Linked DNA regions of Homo sapiens: region 2 is linked to region 1. The links come from fine-mapping of genetic effects on gene expression. A gene starts in region 1. The other region holds a variant in brackets. All regions are shown on one strand. Distances are from middle to middle. Region 1 holds the start of POPDC2 (popeye domain cAMP effector 2). Region 2 has its middle 9.1 kb from the start of CFAP91.

Region 1 (9,563 bases):
TGCTCACAGGTCTACTTTTGTGCCAGTCGCTATCAAGGGGAATGAGATATTGTGCTTGGCTTCAACCAATCTTAGTTCAGGCTCTGGCAACTTGGGGAAAAGCCCACCTTCCTTAACATATTACCCAAGCAAAATTAGATTTGCATAAACTGAAGAAAAAGGGGAAATGGCTATGGAAGACAACCAATAGTGTCTGCTTAAGTTCAACTTGACACTATGTGTCCAGAGCATAAAATTATGCCTCTGTTCTATTTTAGTATCTATACTAGGAAAGTGTTAACCCCAAGCTCAGTGTTTCTCAAACTGTATGTGGTGAAGAACCAGCTTTTTTCCCCTCAATTCATCACAGACCCAACACTAGGAAAATGAAATAAACCCATATAGATTTAAAAATATGCTATACAAACCCAGAATTTTTGTTAGTTCAAAGGCCATAGTTTCTCTGTGAAATTGCTATAAAAAATGTCTAAAGTCACAATTTCTGTCCTTACCCCAGCATGAACCAGCATGGACAAGTAACAAACAGTTTGAAGACCAGGCTGAGTTCATGACCACACTTGTTGACTCTGGTGACTTCATAAGATGGCCCCCGCCTGCCTCGCCTGCCTCTTGTCTGCTGCTCCTTTTGATTCACCTACAACAAGCTGTTCTCTGTTACCAGAATATGCCACGTATTTTGTTTTACTTCTGGGACTGACTTTACAATCTGTTCTTTCTTCCTGGAATGCCCTCCTCTAGCTGGGGAAAACCTACTCATCTTTTTAGACCAGATTAAAAGTCACCTTCCCTGTGATGTTTTCTCGTGGAAAAAAATATTTTTTTAAGAGACAGTGGTCTCACTATGTTGCCTAGGCTGGTCTCAAACTCCTGGGCACAAGTGATCCTCCCATCTCAGCCTCCCAGAATACTAGGATTATAGACATAAGCCATCACGCCCCCAACCTCATGAATTTTAGTTAGGTTATAGCAGTATAGTAAAAGTCCCTATGGATTGAATTATTTGCTCCCTCATAAGTGTTTTTTCTTTGAATCCTAAGTACACTTATTTTATTGGATTACAGTTTCTGAGTCAGTATCCGGGATAGACTGAAAGTTTCTTGAAGTGATAATTGTCTTATTCATCTTTATATCCCCTGTTCTTGGAACACATAGTCTGTCCTGAATAAATGCCTATTGAATTGAATCAGCTCAACAAATGAGAAAACTTATGTTTCTTTCCTTTTTTCTTTCCCAGTTGTTTTTTATTGTGTTCTGCCTTCATGTTTGTGTATTTCCTTATAAGAACATACCATTTTGACAGACAATACATTTTTTCTTTCCTTTTCTATCAAATCTGGACTTACACAAGACACAACTTTTCATTGTTGTGTTCTGATCACAGGTCCTATCCTGTGGGCATCAATGTCACTATTACTGCAGGCCACTATTACTGCAGTGTAATGTCACTATTACATGCACCCATGATTCTCTGACACGTATGCCACCCTGGCAATGTACTCAAATTTCCAGCAGCAATAGATGAGCTTGTATATGCACACATGTAAACTCCCAAAAGTACCTGGTAGGATGTTATTAATATACTGTAGAGAATATACAATTCAGAGACACACTGACCTAGGCTTTAATCCTTATTCACATACTGACTAGCTTTGTGACCTTGGGCAAGTTCCTTAGCCTCTCTGAGCCTGCTGCTTCTATTAAAACAAAAAATAGGTATAGTAAGATAACATAAAACAATAGCTGCTTGATAAATGTTAGTCCCCTCTGCTGAGATAGCACATATGTGGATTGACAGGAAAGCAGGCTGAGTGCAGTCTGGACAGCAGGACAAGTGAACCATAGAGTTAATGGGTCTGCCTGTCTCTTTAATGGGTCAGGGCCAACCTATTTGGCAGGTCTCCTAAGAAAGATGAGCTGCTTTGAAATTGTATCTTGGGCAGAGCTTTGGTTGCTTCTTCATTTCTATGCTTCTGACTTCCCTGCTTACAGCTGGCAGGGACAGCTACTCTGGAAGCTCAGGGGCTGCATGTCTGTGATAGAAGGATGAGCAGCTGCTGCTTGTTAAAGTAGGGGGGTTGTTTGGGAGGCAGGCAAGTGATGTAAAAACAGTATATGGAAATCCCCAAACCCCACTGTTAAAATGATGTCAGGGGTCCAAATCATGTCCATGGAGTGACCTCAGTGACATTTCTTCTCCAAATACTCTAGCTCTTTACTGATTTTTTTCCTCTTAACTTAGAAAGGAGGAAATAAGGTATATATTTGTTGGTCAGATGATTTTAATGAGGTTAAGAAAAAACTGGCTTCCTTCAACATGCCATGCATTTTCATGCCTCTGTGCCCGTGCTTCTGCTGTTCTCACCACTAGAAATGCTGTTCTCCCCACTAGAAATGCTATTCTCCCTCTACCTGCCTGGTGAATTCAACCCCTAAACCTCAAATTAGAGGCCAGCCCTTCTTTGCATCTTCCCTCCCTGATGCCACCCTTCCTTCTAGGCTGCCACCATCCTTCAAAGTTAACTTGGTTGTTGTGCTTCACATACTGAACTGCCTTTGTTTTTTGAGGTCTCTTTACCCTAACAGGGTGAAAGTTTCTCTTGAGGATCTTTGATGCCCAAGGGCTTAGCTCATAAAAGGCACTCAATAAATATTTGTTGAGTGAAAACATCTCCTTCTCACCATATTTGACAATTTTGAATTTCTCATAAATTTTCATCAAGTTATAGCAGTATAGTAAAAGTCCTTATGAATTGAGTCCTTGATTAGTTCTGGGAGGTTACTGAGCACCCCGCCTGTACTTCAGGGGCGATAGGAGTAATGGGAGTAAGTGCTAACCCAGCAGCAGGGAGGAAGAATCAAGGAGTCATTTGGAATCCAGAGAGTCACATTTCTTTTTCTTTCTTTCTTTCTTTCTTTCTTTCTTTCTTTCTTTCTTTCTTTCTTTCTTTCTTTCTTTCTTTCTTTCTTTCCTTCCTTCCTTCCTTCCTTCCTTCCTTCTTTCCTTCTTTCTTCTCCTTCCTTTTTTTTTTTTTTTTGACAGAATCTTGCTCTGTCACCCAGGCTAGAATGCAGTGGCACAATTTTGGCTCACCACAGCCTCTGACTCCCAGGTTCAAGAGATTCTTGTGCCTCAGCCTCCCCAGTAGCTGAGACTACAGGTGCCCGCCACCACGCCCAGCTAATTTTTATACTTTTAGTAGAGACAGGGTTTCCACCATGTTGGCCAGGCTGGTCTCGAACTCCAGCCTCACTCAGGTGATCCACCCGCCTCAGCCTCCCAAAGTGCTGCGATTATAGGCGTAAGCCACTGTGCCCAACTAACATTTCTTAGCCTAATGTTTGCATACTCCAGCTTTATCTCTTGGCAGCCCAAAGTAGATTCCTAGGTTCAACCAGAAGTTCCTTGAAAATTGTCAGACTTCATAGAAGTGTGGAGTTGGGAGTCATGGATCTAGTACTGTACTTCCACTTACTGGCAAACCCCTTGGGACAGAGTATTAAGTTTGACAGACTTGGGTTCAAATCCTGGCTCTGCCACTTAGACCATCTGTGGGAGCTTGTTACCTCTCTGAGCCTCAGTTTCTTCCAGATCTAGAAGGAGAATAATATTTATTTTGAAGGATTGTTGTCACAACTAACTTATAAGTGTATAAAATGCCTAATCTAGGTTTGGCACTTCATGGGTGTTTAATAGGTGGGAATTATAATTTGGAAGCACCGGAGTGGGTGGGATGATGATCTGGGCAATGTATTATTATTTGTTTACTATTACCAGATCCAGATATATGCAGGGGAAAGCCAGCTTAGAATTCAAAAAGCCACTTTACATAGCTACTTTTGTTAAATGGATGTCAAATAAATACATAATGATATTTGCAGTGTGACTTAATAAAGGCCTTCAGGGGGTTTTCCAGCTTTCACTGTTAGGATTTTTTCTGATAATAGTCCCATACTTTCCTACTCTGATGTGTCCTCACTCAGAAGCACTGTCTGGCTCTCCCCAAAGGGAGCTCGGGACAGTTTCCTGCCTGAGGTGTTCAGGTGAATTCTGTGCTCACTTTTCCTTTCTCTCTCCTTGTCTGTCTCTCTGACCCTGAGGTCTTATCTTGTCCTCTGGGAGGTATGTTAAGTGCTCTGCCAGGCTGCCTGTGCCTGGCCTGTTTTTTCTCACTGCCAGTACCTCTTGGATTCCAATTCCAAACATGGTATCCATCTGGGGTCACCCTTTCTTCCGGTGCCAAGAGAGAACACATTCCAAATGGAACACAAATGTGCCTCCCATGCTGGCTCTCCTCATTCTGCTTGGGAAAAACAGAGAGCAGGATGTGGCCGCATCATCCCACGCTGCTGGACTTTTCAGTCCTGTAGTGCTACTTTCCCTTGGGACTATTTAGGTTTTTCTGCTAAGAACCAAATTTGAAGACTCCCAAGAAACATGGAACCAAGGAAGCTTGCCAGAGCTCTGCAGGGAGAGCCAGAGCCTTGCTGAGACAGCGGGGGTGGTGGGGAGGAGAGAGGGGGGGAGAGGGGGAGAGAGAGAGAGAGAGAGAAAGAGGTTTTTAAATTCTCCATGAAGTGTACTATGTTCCATCATTCCTTCCCAAAGCCACCGGAAGCATTCCTTCTAGGAAAGGTGGAGTCGGTAGTGAGAAGCCGGAGGTGAGAAGACCCCTGAGCGGATGGATTCATTCATTTTCTGAATTTCCTATGTGAGGACAGTATTAGAGCCCAGTGAGGCTTTGAGAGGCCCCAAAGATGAGCGCCAACAGCAGCAGAGTGGGCCAGCTTCTCTTGCAGGGTTCAGCGTGCATTAGGTGGAAGCAGGATGTGGAAGGGGCTGTCTACCACCTAGCCAACTGCCTCTTACTCCTGGGCTTCATGGGGGGCAGTGGGGTGTATGGATGCTTCTATCTTTTTGGCTTCCTGAGTGCAGGTTACCTGTGCTGCGTGCTGTGGGGCTGGTTCAGTGCCTGTGGCCTGGACATTGTTCTTTGGAGCTTCCTGCTGGCTGTGGTCTGCCTGCTCCAGCTGGCACACCTGGTATACCGCCTGCGTGAGGACACCCTCCCTGAGGAGTTTGACCTCCTCTACAAGACGCTGTGCCTGCCCTTGCAGGTGCCCCTACAGACATACAAGGAGATTGTTCACTGCTGCGAGGAGCAGGTCTTAACTCTGGCCACTGAACAGACCTATGCTGTGGAGGGTGAGACACCCATCAACCGCCTGTCCCTGCTGCTCTCTGGCCGGTAAGCTACTCTATCCATTGCCCAGAATTTCTTTCCCCAGCCCACACTTCTCATTTCCTAGTGTGTCCCTTTCCATTTCATGTCCCTTTCCATTTCGTGTCCCCTTCCATTGAGGGAAGGATGTGACAAGTCAAACAAACCAAAATAGATTTTTCTAAGAGTGGGGTTGCTTCCTCTTTCTTGGCATTTTCCAAGAAGAAACCAGTTCATGAGGCATCTTGGTTGGCAAGAATGATTGTATGTGCACTTGCTGCTGGAAGGTGTGCAGTGCGTGTGTCTTGAGCCTGGGCCTTAAATAACCCCTCTACCATCACCACACACATATCAGTGTGTCATGCCTAAGCTGCAGCAATATCTCTGTAAGCTTTGAAAAACTAACATTTCAATAAGGTTAATCTGTTCCTTACTCAAATTCAACATTTGCTAAGCACCAACTGTATTCAGGGAACAATGCCAGAAATGGGAGGTCGGGATAGCGGGGTGGTTCTCATAACCCCTGTTCCCTGCCAAGGCATCAAGCAAACAGCCCCACTTGTGTTTGGGGTAGCTGTATGTAGCCAGGTAGGGAGAGTGAATACCCCTTGCCCACCTTTCCATTTCCAGTTGTTCTATTGAGGTTCTTGAAGACTAAGAAGTCAAGTACAGTACTGTAAATCTGAGGGCCCAACAATGGGAGAAGAGAAGTGATACACCTATCTCATCAAGGCTTTTGTGGAAGCACCGCCTCTTTTGGAGAAGGCTGACAGTCAGATATGGGCAGAAATGGTCTTAGTCAGGATCAGTGTATGCCCAGTCAACCTGGATGTGAATGTTGGGCATTGATTTCTTCTGAGAAAACATCACGGGGCTCTGTGCTACACACTTAGTAGGCAATTGTGGATTTTTTTATACTGCCCTAGTGGCTCTTGAGCCCCACAACCCCCACTCCACCAGCTTTCTTGAGACCAGGAGAATGTGATAGAAAAGGTAAGATGGCAATTAGAAGGCTCCAATTCCAAGAAAAAAAAAAAAAAAAAGCAAATCCAGATAATACTGCCAACCACACAATGGAGAAAAAAGTTTGACAATGATGCTAATGGTACTACAACTACCACTAATAGTAATAATACGTGTTTGTGTATTCATTTATAGAACCTGAAGTATCATGTATATATGTTTTGATTTTGTTTGAACTCAGAGGTCCTGGATAGAGTGAGCTAGGAGGGGAGACATTTTGTGAGGGTACATTTCATTTCATTTATTGGTGAACTGAAAGTGTAAACCAATGCGATTATTTGTAAACAGATATAGATGTAAATACAAATACATATAACTATTGTGAAAATGTTTGCACCTATAGTTCCATGCTTAAAGACAATTTAGGGAACTTGCTCATTCATGAGACCCATGATGTTATAGCTCGTCTGTTCAAAGGAGGAAATTGAGAGCAGCAGAAGTGCTCCCTCCAGTGTAGGGTGCCCATTTGCTGGAAGCATGTATGGTTACTGTATAGTTCAGTTAGGATAGATTTACTGTGAACTTGTATAAGATCACTTCCCAGTGAAGGGGAGAGGGGGGCTTGCCCTTGGTGTAGCTTTTCCTGGTATACTTAGCATCAAAAGGCTGAGTCAGAAATTAGACAATTTTGATTTTTTTTTTTCCTGCCTTTCAAGGTTTGGAGTAAGAGTTTTGTTATCTTTCAGTGTCACCCTGTCTCAGCTTTGCTGAGCTGGACATAGAGGAAAAGGCTTCTAGTCTATGACTGGGCTCTAGTTTTAAAGGAGAATCACTGAACCTTGGGCTGGTTACAGTAAGGGACCAAACATCTCAAAGCAGCAGACAAGAACTTTGTGCCAGGAAGTGGGGACTCTTGTGCAGACTTCCACATCTCACATGCACACTGTTCTCTAGAGTCCTTCACTCAAACCTCAGAAGTCTTTTTGTTTTGTTTTAATAAAGGAAACCAATCTCTTTCAAAACTCAGAGAGGGAAAGTGACTTTCTCAAAGTCTATCACCCTGTTAAGCAGCGCTTAACTTAGACGTTTCTCTCATATAAAATTCAAAACACAAACTTCCATATATACAACCCCCTGAGCAGGCAACTAACTATCTAAGCTATTCATTTAGGAGAAGATCATCCATCTTCCAGTAGATCAAGAAGGAAGAAGAAACAGATGATAAAGGGCACAGCATTCCGATTTAAATGGCTTCAGCGAGCCACGAAGATCATTAGACATTATCTACACTCTACGGTTGTCACTCTTTGGTGGCTTGCCTGGGTGGCCGAAATCCTCGCCTAAGGAGCTGACATATGCTGCAGCAGCGCCATTCTCTTCTGCTGTCTTCCTTTGCTATGGAAGCTTTTCAGTGAGGTTTTGATCCCCTTTTATGGTGACACAAGTGAGTTTGTTCCTTGGTTTCCTTTGTTCATTTATTCATCCTTACTTTCTTGCTTCCTTCTTTCCTTCTTTTCCCCCTTCCATACATATTTATTCAGAGTCTTGAATAAAGCTCCTGTCTTCCAGCTTTAGGTTGTCAGATAATAGGTGCAATTGTTTTTTTAATTGGTGCTGGTCTTTGGTAATTTGTATACACGCATGTATACCTAGGCATTCATTAAGAGCAAGGCTCAGGAGTGCTGATATCCCATTGGCCAGGACTTATCACTTGCCTATGCCTAGCAGCCAGGGAAGTAGAGAAATGTTGATTTTTTTCTCTGCAGTCATGTGTCCAGTTAAAATCTAGCACCATTAAGGAAGAGAAGAAAGCAGATACTGGAGAACAGACTGCCACACTGGATTTCCCAGGTCTTTGTTCATTCTCATCTTTATCTGCTTCTCAATACCCTTTGCATCCCTCAAAATTCAGCTCAAATGTCATCTCCTTCGAGAGGTCTGCTGCCCAAAGAGAACCAATCTTTCTCTCTCCTCTGTTACTGTTCCACAATAGCACCTATCACATTGACTTGCAGCCAGTTATTTATGTGCCTGTGACTTCCACTAAATTGTGAAATCCTCAAAGACAAAGACCAGATTGTGCCCATCTCTGCATTCCCAGATCTCCAGAAACATGAGAGATGCTCCAGAAATATTTGTTTAGCCAATAAACCTCCAGAAATAATGGAAGGATATCTCCCCCAAATGAACAAGGTGTACCTTAGAGATCTTTTTCATCTTCCCCCTTTGCCTAATAGAGGCACCCCTATTGCCTGATATAACTCACTTTAGAAGAGAGGTTAAAGATGAAACTCTGAGTTTTCTGGGCAGGGGTCGGGTTGGGGGAAGGATAAAGCCCATACTGGATTCTAATCTTCTTCCAGATGTGGCCTCACATCTGAAATACACTCCCTGTCCTCAGGCATCATCAATGACATGCCATCAGTTCTAACAAGTTCTCATGGAATGCAGTCTTTTTACCCTGCAGGGGCAGAGCACTAGGCTAGGTACAGCCACAAGGGTACAAAGGCACCAAGCAGCAATAGTAAGGCTCCTAACCCCTTAAGTTGTGAAACCAAGCCTGTGGTCATGGGCAAGTCAAGAGCAGTTAATGACTTAAGACTTAAGACTTAAGAATATTCATAAAATTAAAGCAAATAATTCGGATTTCTGGCTGCAGCCACAGTAACCCACTCTAGCCAACAGAAGGGGGAAAAAAGGTCTTTATTTAAAAAAATACAAGGATTTCTTATGAAACTCAAGGAAAGACATGCACCTAAGCCTCAGGTAGTGCTAGAAACAAGAACATGTCCTACTAGGACATTTTATGTGATTTCAAGTTTATTTTCTCTATAGCCAATTGGGACCCATGCTTTTCAAAGTCTGAGTTACGTGATAAAAAAAAATTTTTTTTAGTTCCTTCAGGGAGGAGTGTGTTAGTTTTGTTAATAATGCCTGATAATTGTCCCCATCCAAGGCATGATTTACACGCAATTCCATTTCCAAATTCCCAGGGAAGGAGTTTGATTGGCTCAGCTTGAGTCAGGTGTTCACTCTAGGACCATCAGCTGGATAGGGTGCATGGGATCTCATTGTCTAAAGAAACAAGCTGTTATTGTCACCTACGGTTAGAGAGGTCCGGGAAAGGGTCATGCTAGGAGAGTCCACTACCATCTACCCAAAGCTGTAGTAATAGGGTGGCAACATGGTGTTGTGCTAAGAACATAGAATTTTAGTTCCGCCACTTGATCGCTATGTAGCCTTAAGCTCGCCACTCAACCCTTCTGAGCACCAGTTTCCTTAGCTATAAAATACAGAAAAGAATAATCTACCTTGTGGTGTTGTGAACATTATATAAGAGAACACTGGTAAAGTGTCTAGCAGAGTCTGGCATATGGTAGA
Region 2 (9,563 bases), 34 kb before region 1:
AGAAAGAAAAGAAGAAGAAGAAAGACTTCTTTTCCTCATTCTATCAGATAAACTATCTAAGGTAGTCAACAGCCAGCAGCCTCCATAAACACATCCGAAGACACTATTACCTTGATTTTTTTTATAGCACTGAAATGTTACTGATTTGCTTATTTATTATATCTCCTCCCACTAGAATGTAAGCTCTGTGAGACCAGAGACCTCAAATGTCCTGTTCACCCTGAATTCATCCATATCTCTTAGGCCAGTAAAACCACCTTTGCAAAAGATTATAACTGAGAAAATTATGACAGTGAGAAAAATCTGACATGGCTGAGTCCATCTTGACTCTAGCCTCACAGGTTGGCTGTCTTTGCTCATTCTGGGACATGAGCCAAGCTAACTTTGGGAGAAATTTAGAGTATACTTTTGTTTGTTTGTTTTTTGTTTTTGTTTTGAGATGGAGTCTTGCTCTGTTGCCCAGGCTGGAGTGCAGTGGCACAATCTTGGCTCACTGCAACCTCCACCTCCCAGATTCAAGTGATTCTCCTGCCTCAGCATCCTGAGTAGCTGGGATTACAGGTGCCCACCACCACACCCAGCTAATTTTTTGTATTTTTTAGTAGAGACAGGGTTTAGCCATGTTGGCCAGGCTGGTCTTGAACTCCTGATCTCAGGTGATCCACCTGCCTGGGCCTCCCAAAGTGCTGGGATTACAGGCGTGAGCCACCGTGCCTGGCCTAGTTTATAGTTTAAATGATAATAGCCCCTCCCAAAAACTAAACTATTTTTATAAAATGAGTGAAAGTCCACAAAGTTAGGATGAAAGGGGCCTGAATTATAAATAATTACCAGCCATTTTTTCGGAGGTCATAAGATTTGCAACTTCCCCAATTACTCTTGAAGATAACATCACTATTATAGAACCTAAGACTGGCCTTTTGAGGTATCTTTTTAGGCCTTTGCATTTCTGACAACCAGATGGCCCCACCTGGACCTGCCAACGAGTCCTGTCGTCCTCCACCTAGGAACTGACTCAGCCCAAGAGGACAGCTTCAATTCCCTATGGTGTCATCTCCAACCCAGCCAATTAGTATGCCATGCCCCCTACCATACCCCCCTTGCCCTCCACACTGTCTCCGAAAAACCCCTAACCTCCAAGCGTTTGGGGAGTAATAACAAAACTCCAGTCTCTTGTACAGCTGGCTCTGTGTGAATTAAACTCTTTTTCTATTGCAGTTCCCCTATCTTATAAACTGACTCTGTCTAGCCAGCGAGCAAGGAGAACTCACTGGGTAGTTACACCAGCACCTGGCACAAAGCAGGTGCTAAAGGAAAATACATTGGAATGAATTGAGCTACTGAATTATTCATGTATTTACCTGTCTGCCATCAGTGACTTTCACTTCTGTCTCACTGCCAATTTCATACCTTCACAATCTTTAAGATATTCCATTTCAAATGACCAAACATCTACTAGACAAACTCAATACATCCTCAGTAAAACTAACACTTCCGTACACTGCAGAAACTCTAATACAGTGATTAACTACGTGAACATTAGAATCAGATTTCCTAAGTTTGAATCTTTGTTCTAAAACAGTTCGTGTGATCTTCGGCATTTACTTAATATCCACATGCATCAGTTTCCAAAACACTAAAATGAGAACAAACAGCAATAATATCAGGGAAAATTATGGGAGGTAACACCTACAAAGGACTTAGAACACAGTCTGTTAGATAGCGAGTGTCCGATAAATGTTATAATACTACCTAGCTTCATAAATCTTCTCAATTTCTCCATTTCTGTCTTCGTGCATCATGAGCTTCCCATTTACCTAGAACTACATCTGATATTCATCTTAAAATATGTAAGAATACAAAGGGCAAATGTAGGGCTAAAGAATAGGCATGACTGTTAAAGATATAATTCATATACTTAAACACATATTTACATTTCACTACTAACTGAATAGCATTTAGTAGCTAAATGTAAGTAAACATGGATTTAAATATATAAATTTAGTAGCTAAATGCTATTCAGTTACATTTAGTAGCAAAATGTAACTACTATGTAACTACCAGTTACATAGTACTAGCAGTAGTATCAGCAGTATTAGTACTGTGTACTACTAATACATACTATTAGTTACTATGTAACTATTACATAGTAACATTTACTACTACATTACATGGTAGTTACATTTAGCTTCTAAATGCTATACATCAGCTTTTGCTACTGTTGGAAAACATCAGTTCAATCAGAAAAAACAAATGTTATTAGAAAACAAAATTTCCAGTTTAAGCTGGCTCATTAGGTGAAATTTTAAATTTACAGGTTAGTATATATATATATATATATAGAGAGAGAGAGAGAGCATTTAGGCCAGGTATGGTCGCTCATGCCTGTATTCCCAGTACTTTGGGAGGCTGAGGCAAGAGGATCACTTGAAGCCAGGAGTTTGAGACCACGCTGGGCAACATAGTGGGATCCTCTCTCTACAACAACAACAGCAACAAAATTAGCTGGGCGTGGTGTCATGCGCCTGTAGTCCTAGCTACTCAGTGGCTGAGGTGGGAGGATAGCTTGAGCCCAGGATTTTGAGGCTGCAGTGAGCATTTGATTTTGATCAGTGTTTTGCAACTTATTGGAGTTTGTTCTGAATTTTGGTTGATGGTCTCACAGCTATAGAAAGGAAGAAATTCTTCCCAACCGGAAGCTAAAGACAAAAATACACAGGCTTGATCTCATTTATTTTAGGTAGTTCACCAACTTTTATTCATTTGTGTGTATGTTCACACAGTCTCTTATTAGCTTTTTATCTTCTATCAATAACAAATATATAGAGAGATGAATCTCCAAGCAAAAGAGGGTTTATTTTGGAATAAAGAAATAGGGTTGCAATCTGGTACACATGCGTAGACCAGGGTGGTCTCTGATATGTGGTAGAACAAAAAAATGGTGAAGGTTTTATTGGGAAAGGAGAAAGAGTATGTGGGTTGTTATGAAAGAAAGCTCTTTGGTGCTTGCAACATGTTTTTTGCAGGAGCTGGTGAGCTCTGATTGGTCAGTGGCCACAATTTCTAGGTAAAACTAGTTTTAAAGTCATGGTGGCTGTTTCCTTGTAAAACTAGTCTTAAAACTGTAGCAGCTGTTTCGTTGAATTGGGCTTACTGGACAGTTTCTGGAGCAGGCTTTTGAGACCTGAGTTTTGTTTTCATTTTTGTTTTTTCTCTATGCCCCCCCACCCTGCACTGTAAATTTTAGTTGGGTATGACAGGTATGACTCCATTTAGATAATCAACTTTCACATTCTGCTCCCTGCCACCCCCCCACCTTTTTTTTTTTTTTTGAGACGGAGTCTTGCCCTGTTGGCCACTCTGGAGGGCAGTGGCGCCATCTCGGCACACTGCAACCTCTGCCTTCCAGCCTCCAGCAATTCTTGTGCCTCAGCCTCCCGAGTAGCTGGGATTACAGGCATGTGCAACCACTTCAGGCTAATTTTTGTATTTTTAGTAGAGACGGGGTTTCATCATGTTGGCCAGGCTGGTCTCGAACTCCTGACCTCAAATGATGCACCCGCCTCAGCCTCCCCAAAGTGCTGAGATTACAGACGTGAGCCCCCGCGCCCACATTTCCCTTTTTTGACTAAGATCTTTCCCTGAAAGCATCACTGGTCAACTATCCTTGAAGTTAGGCTTGATCTCCCTCAATGCCGGGATGTGCTTTGTCCTAGTTGTTCTGACCCCACACTAGAGGGAAAATAGGAGTCAATAGGAGTCAACATTAGAGGCCCAAGTCACATTTGGACAACAAAGGGGCCGGAAGGAAAGACCCTTACAGGATAGGTCTACCTGAGATTCAGCATTGGATTCCATCTTATCAGTTACACAGGCATTAGCAATCATCTGGAAGCACTGGACTAACATTTTCCTGTTGGGAAAGCAGGCTTTGCAAAGATTAGACAGGCAACAATAATGTAACTTAACTATCATAATGTCAAGAATAAGCAGCAATAGTATCATGAATTCAGTTTGAAAAATAGCTCTAAACCATGAATCTTATTTTGAAGGTAAGTCACTAAACAGATTGAAAAGTCCAAATGCATTGGGTGGAACTTTCTGGAGCCAGGTGGCATGTTCCGTTATCTTTCATAATTGTGTTTTCTACTTCCATGTGCAGCTAGTGTAAGCAATTGCACGAATACCACCTTGTTCAGCTAATAAGCAATCTAGAGCAATCCTGTTATCGAAAACCACTTTGGCAAGAAAATCTAAGGAAGTTTGGTGAGCTGCCATGGCTTTGGCTGTGGAGTCAGCTGGAGCTCCAATAGTTAGGGATAAATTTCTAACCATTATTTCTAAGGTACTAACCCCAATCCAGAGGAAGAAGGATCTAACAACTGAGGCCCATCCTGCTGAGTTTATGCCTCTAGGTAGAGTGTCTTTTTTGATATGATGGTGCAAGTTAGTAGATGTCAACCAATGTTCAGATTTTGCAAGTTTAAATTGAATGTAGAAATATCCCAGACCACATTGGTGCTTTATTTTCCATTTATTGAGACATGATGTTGCCCATGAATAAAGCTGACTGTAGGCTCCCCCACAGATGAAAATGTATCTCGATGTGTCACAACAGGTAATTCCACGTAGATGGAGTACCTTGTGCATTAACAGTTACTTGTAGGGAGGTGTCAACAGTAATTATCCAGGGTTCTATTATTGAATTATTGCACTGTTGGAAGTCATCAACAATTAGAGGAGGAAGGTCATAAATATTTTTATAAGCTGTCAAATTTCTTTTCTCTTGAATTCTATCAGCATGTTGTTTGCATAATCTTAATCTAACTTCAAGGCCTTTTTTGTAGATCTTAGGTAATGTTAGGGTGAAACAGGAAATCTGAATATGTGAGTCTAAAAGCTTGACCTTGTAAAAAGGACTAGATGTATAATTAGAACAGTTACATGGGGAATATCAGTAAAATCTGTTCTGAGGGCTGGGCACCGCTGGTCACACCTGTAATCCCAGCACTTTGGGAGACCAAGGTGGGCAGATCACAAGGTCGGGAGTTTGAGAACAGCCTGACCAACACAGT[G/A]AAACCCCGTCTCTACTAAAAATACAAAAATTAGCTGGGCCTGGTGGTGCGCCTGTAATCCCAGCTACTCAGGAAGCCAAGGCAGGAGAATCGCTTGAACCCAGGAGGCAGAGGTTGCAGTGAGCCAAGGTCACACCACGGCACTCCAGCCTGGGCAACAGAGCAAGACTCCATCTCAAAAAAAAAAAAAAAAATCCATTATGAGTTAGACCAGGGGTTCACTTGCATCATGGAGATTGAAGTTTTTTTGGTACCAAATCCAATAAATCGGTTATGTTTCTCATTTTGGAAATAGATTAGAAAATGCAAATTAGAGCCTTATTTTTCCAGGAAAATAAAAGCACATAAGAAGAGACCAATAGTAAAAGGAAAAGGGTATATTGGCCTGGTCTGGACGTCTTGTGAATAGCAGTTTATTTCAATTGTTGTCTGCTTCAGATAACAGATAAACTTTAAATTGCCTGCTGGGGTACCGGTCCAGGCAGAAGTAGAAGCCCTTTTAAAATGAGAGATGTGGATCAATGAGTCAATGCCTTTGAGTTTGGTGATACAGGGATTGGTGAGAAGGTCTTGGTATGGGACCTTCCAATGAGGTTGGAGAGAGTCTTCATATAGGTGTCTTTTCAAGATAGACAGAATCACCAGGTTGTAGCTTTAGGTCTTGGTGCTTTAGGTCTTTGTCCTCCAGGAGCACACTGTGGAAAGATTTTTCTACCAAAATATAATATTTGTCTACTACTGTAATAATTCCCTTACAGTATTATAGTATCTCTCCTTTTAACAATTGAGGGTCAAAGGCAGTGGGCATTAAATGCATAGGATGACCAGTGATTATTTCAAAAGATGAAAATTTGTGGGCTCTAAAAGCAGTGGTTCTCAGTAATAATACCAAGAGAAGAACTTTAAACTAAGGGAGGTGCAAGTTTTCCATACATTTTGCCAACTGAGTCTTTATGGTTCCATTTGTTTATTCTACCAGGTCAGAAGATTGGGGATGGTAAGAACAATATAAGTCCTATAAGATGGTAAGCATAATAAGAAGTCCATGTGGCCAGTAAAGTGGGTTCCCTGGTTACTATGAAGCTCAAGGGGAGTTCCCCAAAGAGGAATAATTTTTTTCAAAGAAAAGTTTGGCCATAGCTAAAACAGTAGCTTATCTAAAAGAAAGCCTTCCACCCAATGGGAAAACATACAGATCATAACCAATATATATGTATACTCATGGGAGGGAGGTAGTTGGAAAAAATTCAGTTGCCAAACCTTGAATGGCCTATTAGGTAAATTTAAATGTCAAGGAGGAGTCTATACAGATTTTCCTTGGTTAAATTTAGGACAGGTGGTAAAAGTCAAATAAGCATTTTAGTGGCTTTTAAAATATTTCCCCACCCCACCAATATTGTTTTCTGGAAGAAATTAATGTCAGTTGCCTAATGAATCAAATTATGTACTGTAGTTAATAGTGGATATTTCCTTGAATCTGGGAGAACTGGTTTGTTCTCAGGTCCCGATCAGAGTTCCTTTTGCTCATCAAACCAGAAATCATGGTCCTTTTTCGGTTTCATTGTTGTTTTTGAGATAGGGTCTCACTCTGCCACCCAGGCTAGAGTGCAGTGTGATCATGTCTCACTGCATCCTCAAACTCCTAAGCTCAAACAATACTCCTGCCTCAGCTTCCTAAGTAGCTGGGACTACAGGCACACCTCACCACACCTGGCTAATTTTCTCATTTTTTTGTAGGGACAGGGTCTCACTGTATTGGGAGGCTGCTCTTGAATCCCTGGCCTCAAGCAATTCTCCCACCTTGGCCTCTCAAAGTGCACTACAGGGGTGAGCCACCACACCCAGCCTGTTTTGTTTTGTTTTGTTTTGTTTTGTTTGAGACAGAGGAGTCTCACTCTGTCGCCCAGACTAGAGTGCTGTAGCAAGATCTCGGCTCACTGCATCCTCTGCTCCCCAGGCTCAAGCGATTCTTGTGCCTCAGCTTCCTGAGTAGCCCAGGATTACAGGTGCATGCCACCAAGCCTATCTAATTTTTTTGTATTTTGACAGAGTTTTGCCATATTGGCCAGGCTGGTCTTGAACTCATGACCTCAGGTGATCCACTCACTTCAGCCTCCCAAAATGCTGGGATTGCAGTTGTGAGCCACTGTGCCCAGCCCTGTTTTGTTTTTTTGACTTCAGTTTTGTTTTTTGACTTCTGAGGCCCAATTCTGTGCATCTTTGGTAATTGTTCTTTTTTTTTTTTCTGGGTCTCATTCTGTCACCCAGGCTGGAGTGCAGTGGCTTGATCATGGATCACTGCAGCTTCTACATCCCTGAGCTCAGGAGATCCTCCTACCTCAGCCTTCTGAGTAGCTGAGACTACAGAAGCACACCACCATGCCCAGATAATTTTTTGAGTGTGTTTTTTTGTAGAGATGGGGTTTTGTCATGTTGCCCAGGCTGGTCTCTAACTCCTGGACTCAAGCAATCCACCTGCCTCGGCCTCCCAAAGTGCACAGCCATGAGCCACTGTGCCTGGCCTCTTTGATAATTATTCTTAAATCATTTGTTGAAAGTTCTTTTAGTAGGGCCATAACAGAGATTTGATCAAATGAACCTTTAATGGCAGCATTCTTTGCTGCATTATTAGCAAAGCGGTTTACTCTCATCTCCATAAAAATGTAGATTTGAATGTACAGAAAATTAGATAATAGCCAAAGCAGCTGGTAGCTAGATGATATCCAGTAAGTCTTGTGTGTAGGATCCATTTGTAATTTGGCCTCCCATGGAAGTGAGGAAACCTATTATTTCCATAACATCCCCAAATCATGAGCAACCTCGAAAGCATACCTACTGCCTGTAAATACAGATTAGTAGATTTCCCTTTAGCAAGGAGGCAAGCCCAAGTAAGGGCAAAAGCTCAGCCTGTTTGACAGAAGTAGCCACAGGTAGGAAGCTAGCCTCAGATACTTCAAAAAAAGGTAATAATTGCATATCCTGCACACTCTTTGCCAGTGTCATCCTTTAAATATGATCCATTTGTAAACAATGATAGTTCAGCATTGTCCAATGGACTATATTGCAAATCTTTCTGGGGAATCAAAAGATAGTGAGGGTCAAACACTCATGGGGGGTTTCATCAGAAAGAAGGGGTGAGATGCAGGATTAAGATTGTTACAGAGAGAAAGTTATGTGAGGAGCAGCTAGTAAACGAAGTTCATAAATGCTAAGACAACTGGTAGAAAGGTGTTGGGTATGATGGGAATTTAAGAGCTTCAACAGAATGGGGAACAAAAGTGGTCAAAGGAGATCTCATGATTATTTATTCTATAGCTATAACTAGTAGAGCAGTAGCTGGAATAGTTCCCAAACAGGAGCATAATCCCCAAGCCGCTGGATCTAGTTATTGGCTGTAATATCCACTGGGGGCAGTGTTACTCTCAATGATTTTTTTAGTTAAGACGCCCAAGGAATTTCCCTTTTTTCATAAACAAAAAGGAAAATAAGGAGTGGATAATTGGGATGTCTCAGAGTATGGGGGGTTTAATAATTCTTTCTTTAATTTAGTAAATGCAATATTTTTAGATTCTTCTCAAACAATGGGATCGGTTTTAGAGGTCTTGAGTAGGGTGTACAGGGGTTGAGCAATTAAGTAAAAGTTTGGTATCCAGTTACTGCAGTATCCAGCAAGTCTAAGAAACTCTCTGAGTTGCCATTTCATTTTAGATTTGGGGAACTGCAGGACACCTTGGATCTGTTCAGGGCCCAAACGTAGTCATGTTCAAGAAGTCAGATGACCTAGATATTTAGCTTGGGTCTTAACTATAGTTATATTTTTTCTTAGAAACCTTATGATTTTTTTGTGGCAAGAAGTTTTAGAAGATGCACACTGTCTATCTCACAGGCTACCTGCGTGAGAAAGAACAAAGAAATAAATTACCTACATATTTCAGTAAGGGTGAGCCTTGAAGAAAAGCCACATTTTGTAAATTAGCTTTCAGAATTTGAGAAAAGTAGGAAGGGCCTTCCATATAGCCCTGAGGCAAAACAGTCCAAGTATATTGTTGTCCTTTCCACGTAAAGGCAAACAGATATTGACTAGTTTGATCAACAGGGATGCTGAAGAAGACACTACAGAGGTCAATAACAGTGAAAATTCACTATCAGTAGGTATAGAAGTCAGCAGTATGTGGATTTGGGAACAGAAGTATGTATATTTTGGACCATGAGGTGACAGGGTATAACAATATTATTTATGGCATGGAGATCCTGAACAACTCTCCATCCTCAACAATTAGGTTTTCTTACTGGGAGGGTGGAAGTATTAGGGGCTGATACAGGGAATTATTAGGCCTTGAGTTTTGTATTCTTCAATATTGGGTCTAAGGCAGTTTGGTTAAGGAATATTGTTTAATACTAGGCAAAGGCTTGGTTGAATCAATTTGGATTTTGATTGAGGGTGCATTATGAATTCTACCAACATCTGTTGATGATGTGGCTGATAAA

The links. PIP is the estimated chance that this variant, and not a neighbour inherited with it, causes the effect. A credible set is the group of variants that fine-mapping cannot tell apart.
Region 2: its variant is the best candidate, but not a certain one, in a credible set for the expression of POPDC2 in whole blood (INTERVAL, PIP 0.74).

The regions. Positions count from the first base shown.
Region 1 is chr3:119,655,616-119,665,178 of GRCh38, reverse strand. POPDC2 (popeye domain cAMP effector 2) reads left to right here and starts at 4,590. Exons shown (of 4, transcript NM_001369919.2): 1 at 4,590-5,246. The coding sequence starts at 4,756. It also overlaps a transcript of COX17 not described here. RefSeq lists an enhancer at 2,286-2,335.
Region 2 is chr3:119,689,177-119,698,739 of GRCh38, reverse strand. No RefSeq gene overlaps it. Among named protein-coding and RNA genes, the nearest start is that of CFAP91, 9.1 kb to the left of the region's middle. RefSeq lists an enhancer at 1,192-1,241. The variant G/A (reference allele first, on the strand shown) is at 5,076.